2 separate regions of the Homo sapiens genome follow, and region 1 is linked to region 2. A link means that fine-mapping ties the variant in region 2 to the expression of a gene that starts in the linked region. Tissue or cell type: whole blood. Region 2 holds a variant in brackets; the other region holds the start of a gene. All regions are shown on one strand. Distances are between the middles of the regions.

Region 1 (2,608 bases), 160 kb before region 2:
GGAGCTCCTTTTGGGTTCCCTGAGCTCCTGACTTTTCAGGTTCTAGTTATGTCTAACTTGGTCTTGACTGCTCATTTGCGGGTCAGGACAGCAGAAGCTGTCTGTTTACTACAGTAGATGTAATTCGCATTTTTGGACACAATGACCAGTGGAGATTACACAACCCAAACTGCCCTCATTCCCCAACATGTGCATGGACAGAGTGGGATGAAAGTGCGCCAGGGTGGTGGGAAGCCCCAGGGATTCTGGTGGCTAGCCTAGCTGTCTACAGGATGGCAGAGTTCCTCTTGGGCAGCTCATTTAATCCCTCCACGCAGAACTGTTAACATCTCTGTGCCATTCTTCAGTTAAATGAGAACCTAACGCAGGCCTGATGCATGGCTCAGATTACACAGCGGATGTGAAGAGGCTTTGGGAACATATCCTCTCTCCTAAGGACAGGGAGGGGATGCTAGTGTGGGGTGCCTGCGGTGTTGCATGCAGGTCAATGAGAACAGTTACCGACACACAGACTTAACCCGAGTCCTCAAAGATGTGTTTTATTATTATTTTTTCATCCTTTAAACATGAATCTAAATGCTGGCTTAAAATCAGGATTCATGCATAAACGGCTTCCCAGTTTATTAACAATACTGGCTGTGACTTTTTGAGTTCAGTGTTGTGGGCCAGGCACTTAAATTATTATTTCGAATCTTGCCAATGGTACTTTACATTTGAGCTCTTGCGTACCCTGCCAGAGCAAGGATTATAACCTTAATTTTTTTTCTTACCCCAGAACTTATGCTCTTAACCCTATTCAATGCTGTCTCTCTCTTTGGCTAAGAAAGACTTCTGAGGCAGATGGAAGGAAGGAAGGAAGGAGGGAGCGATACAAGGAGAGGCTTTCCGATTCCGTAATACACCTGGTTGTGCAAAGTTCACCTCTACATATAAAGTTTTTGTTTTCCAAGTCATTGAACCGGCGACATATTCTACCGGCCATTTTGGTTGTGGCAACCCCAATTCCCTTGATTTTTTTTTTTGTGACAGCAAATGGAATTAGAGTAGGCCGCCCTGCCCGGGCTTTTTAAGAAACCCCAGCAACCCCCCCGGGTAAGGAGCGCCGCTCTCCCGCCCGCCGGTCCAGGGTGTGTGCGGTTTCCAGCACGGCCTCCTCCTTCGCCCCACTCTGGGTTCGCGGGTCGGCGCCGGCGGGGCGGGGCTCGGCAGGGCCACGCTGCCACGCCCAGCGTCTCCACCCCCTCATTTAAATACGCGGCGCCGGCGAGTGCGTCGAGCTCGCCGCGGACTCAAGATGGCGGCGTGTGGACGTGTACGGAGGATGTTCCGCTTGTCGGCGGCGCTGCATCTGCTGCTGCTATTCGCGGCCGGGGCCGAGAAACTCCCCGGCCAGGGCGTCCACAGCCAGGGCCAGGGTCCCGGGGCCAACTTTGTGTCCTTCGTAGGGCAGGCCGGAGGCGGCGGCCCGGCGGGTCAGCAGCTGCCCCAGCTGCCTCAGTCATCGCAGCTTCAGCAGCAACAGCAGCAGCAGCAACAGCAACAGCAGCCTCAGCCGCCGCAGCCGCCTTTCCCGGCGGGTGGGCCTCCGGCCCGGCGGGGAGGAGCGGGGGCTGGTGGGGGCTGGAAGCTGGCGGAGGAAGAGTCCTGCAGGGAGGACGTGACCCGCGTGTGCCCTAAGCACACCTGGAGCAACAACCTGGCGGTGCTCGAGTGCCTGCAGGATGTGAGGGAGGTGAGGAGGTGGGACGAAGCCGGGAGGGCCAGGCCTGGTGCGGGCCCGAGGGTGTTGCCGGCCTTGGAAGCCGCTGACGCCGGTCGGCTGCTTTCCTTGCTTCCTCTGTGCTGCACTCGCTCCTTCCCTCTTTGCTCCTCACTCCCAGGCGCTTTCAGGGAAAAGGATACCACTCCCACTCCTTCTTTCCCCCGCCCTTATTTCCCTCCCTGTTGCCGGGGTCTGGGACGAAAACCTGGGCTCCTGGCCGCAATCCGCCGAGGCCCAGAGCGTGTCTGTTCGCTCCTGTCTTTTGTGTGATGCTCTATGCAGAGTGTCTCCTCGCCGAAGATCAGTTTAGGATTTTGCCATCAGTTTCGACTAGGACAATTTGTGGCAAGCCATTTAAACATAAAAAAATGCCTGGCGTACTTAGGCTGTAAAGAATGATCTGTTTATTAGCAGTAGATGTAATTCGCAAATCCATATTTTTGGTGCTGAAATTAATGTATGCTTTGTTTTCTTCACTTCCTTTGGTCAGTTGTATTGAACCCCATGTTTAAGCTGTTAACTCCCAGTGACTTGGCGCCCCAAAGCTTGAAAAGTTGGGGAAGCGTTTGAAGCTGTGTTTGTGACTGGGTTATGGGATCTTGCCTTTCTGAGGTCTGAATGTGATTTTAACAGTATCTCTTAATGAAATCTACATTTGTCGTTGCTTGGTGTGATTCAGTTGAGTGACATTGATAATTTATAATCAAGTGACATTGATAATTTATAATCTAGGTTTAATGCTGCAGACCATAATGACAATTCTCAAAGTTTGGGAGCAAATCTGACAGTAGTAACTTTTTCCAGAGGTGTAGGTATATAAAATTAGCCCTAAAGGTGGACAAATAG
Region 2 (2,761 bases):
TTACAGGCATGCACCACCACACCCAGCTAATTTTTGTATTTTTAGTAGAGACGGGGTTTCACCGTGTTGTCCAGGATGGTCTCCATCTCCTGACCTCATGATGTGCCCACTTCGGCCTTCCAAAGTGGCCGCAAAGTGGCCCACTTCGGCCAAAGTGCACTTCGGCCTTCCAAAGTGCATTACAGGCGTGAGCCACCACGCCCGGCCTGGCCTTTTTTTTTTTTTTCTTTTGAGACACAGTTTCACTCGTTGCCCAGGCTGGAGTGCAGTGGCGCAATCTCGGCTCACTGCAACTTCTGCCTCCTAGGTTCAAGCAGTTCTCCTGCCTCAGCCTCCCAAGTAGTTGGGATTACGGGCATGCACCACCATGCCTGGATAATTTTTTCTTATTTTTAGTAGAGACAGGATTTCATCATGTTGGCCACGCTGGTTTCGAACTCCTGACCACATGTGGTCCACCCACCTTGGCCTCAATTATGTGCATTTTGGTATATTTACTTGTATTTCAACATCTTGTGAGTTTGAAAAACCTGAAAGGCCAGAATGCTTCCTTTTATTTCTCACCATTTGGGCAGCACCTAAGTGGTTTTGTAAAATGCAGCATCTGGTGCTGTGGGTCTCTCTCAGGCCTTGAGGGACACTTCCTTCCTCCCCACTCGCCTCCTCTCCACTAGACTTTGGTTCCTAGAGGGCGTGGGGCCGGGTCTGAGGTTCTTGCCTGCCTTCCCTCCCATTGGTCTTTGGTTGCTCATCCCTCTAACTGCACCCCTTCTTGGTCCTTCCTCCACAGACTTCAGATAATAGATAAGTCATTAGCAAACCAGACCGAATCTTTAGGGTGAAGAGCTCCCCAAAGCCATCTGGTGAGGTCATTGTGGGGACCAGGGACTGATTATTTGTCACCTGGATCACAAAGATGGGACTGTCTGCTCAGGCTGGTGGTGACAGGATCCTGACCCGTGGTCCTCTCCCGCTCCCTCTGCTCCACCAGGACACATGTATAGGACACTGTGCTGTGTGCAGTGGAGAAATCTCCCTGGGCCAGGGGAAAGTTCAGACAGTGCCTCTAGATTGTGTTTTGCCTCCTCCAATGTAGAGTTGACATCTGGACCCCAGAGCCCAGCAGGGCTTTCTGTCAGACATGCTAGGGTGGTAGAAATGGGCCCTCCAGGTCCCCCTGCAGTGCACTGGGCAGAGACCTCCGGAAAGCCGGCAGCGGGAGCGCTTCCTGGGCAGCTTCCCCCAGCACAGTGTTCCCAAACCAGTCCATCCGGAAAACAGTCTGTACAGCAAATGCTGTGTGAGATCTTAGGCTTTTCACTTTTTTTGTTTTGTTTTGTTTTTGAAAGAAAGAAAAAAATACAATTAACAAGCCTCTTTTGTAAATGGGTTTCCTTTCTATGTATAAAATCGTGGTGGTCCCTTGTTTTTACATGTTCATGCTGTGTAATTTTGAGATGTTACTGAGATATGTTCTGAACATAATGTGCATTTTTTTCTGTACAGATGAAATGGGAGAATTTAATAAAGAGTTTGCAGGTTTTTACTTGTT[A/G]AATCTTCTCTGTGGTGACTGGGAGGAACCTCAACCACCTCTCTGCTAGTGGAAGCAGTGGCCTTGAACTTGCCAACTGATGCTCACAAACCTTGCTGATCAGGTCCTTAGTTCTTGACCAGTTAGGTTCAGCAGAGTAGGACTCAAGGACTTTTAGAGGACTAGGGACCTTGATCCCCTTGGTTTCTGTATGCTGCTAGTAGCAGAGCTGGAAGTCACGTCTGGGGTTTTCTGACTCTTGAGCCAATGTGTCCAGAATTATTCATTCTACTGATATGTTTAAGCCCACATCATGAGGCTCTGTCCTGGGGAGAGCAGAATCTGGCAGCTCTGTGTACAGATCTGACGTGTGGATGGCTGGTCCTGAGAGGCGCCTGATCTTCAGTGGCCACCCTTCCCCATCACCCCCTTGTCAGTCTTCTCCCTCACATTCCAGCAGCCCAGTCCCTGCGTCAGTAGCCTTTCCAGACCTCCTCCCTGAGCCTTCTGCTGCTGCCTGTCTCGGCGAAGTTAATTTGCGTCTGCGTGTTAAAAATGAATGGCTTCAGGAATTTGCATGGTAGCAGGGGTTTCTTGAAGTGGTAATATCCATACTACGATTTGAGGAATGAGATGTGCTGCGAGAGGAGGCAGATACTTGGGACCCAGGGTTTGTTCTCAGAACTCATGCCCATCATAGGCAGTTGTCACCTAGGAGGCTGTGGGCCCAGACATAGAGGAGAGACGGGGAGAAGGTGAAGAGTAGAGGAGGAAGAAGGAGGAGGGACTTGGGGTCCTTGTGAGTCATCACTGCAGATCTTGCTCTGTCTAGGGAGCCCAAGGCAGCCATCAGTCTCTGCATGTGGGGAGCCTGTCCGTGAGCGTCTTGGAGAGGCTGCCTGCTTTGATCTAAGCTTAGGAAGGTGGGGTCCATGGTTCAGGCTCCTTGTCACCAGTGCACCCTACAAGGGAGATTTTGGTTCACCTACCCCAGCTCCACTCTGCCCCATAAGTGGACGCCACAGCCCCAGAGGCCCTGGCGGTGATGGAGACAGCTGCCCAGCTGAAGCCTTAATAGTCTGAATGTATCGCCCCCACCCTCACATTTTATGTGTGAAGATGTTTCTGGTAAAAAATCCTTGGCCAACATAATCCTCAGAGGCATTTGGCATTTGTCCTCAAAAGGGGCTAGGAATTAAAGAGTTTTAGCCAAAATGAGGAGAACCTTAG

What was found. PIP is the estimated chance that this variant, and not a neighbour inherited with it, causes the effect.
Region 1: it holds the start of GLG1, and the variant in region 2 is fine-mapped to the expression of GLG1 in whole blood (INTERVAL, PIP above 0.99). The same link has a PIP of 0.9 or more in NK cells and lung.

What each region holds. Positions count from the first base shown.
Region 1 is chr16:74,605,781-74,608,388 of GRCh38, reverse strand. It overlaps GLG1 (golgi glycoprotein 1), which reads left to right and starts at 1,275. Exons shown (of 26, transcript NM_001145667.2): 1 at 1,275-1,732. The coding sequence starts at 1,295. RefSeq lists silencers at 1,105-1,294, 1,525-1,704.
Region 2 is chr16:74,446,221-74,448,981 of GRCh38, reverse strand. GLG1 (golgi glycoprotein 1) reads left to right here. Exons shown (of 26, transcript NM_001145667.2): 26 at 1-1,542. Among named protein-coding and RNA genes, the nearest start is that of CLEC18B, 26 kb to the right of the region's middle. The variant A/G (reference allele first, on the strand shown) is at 1,553.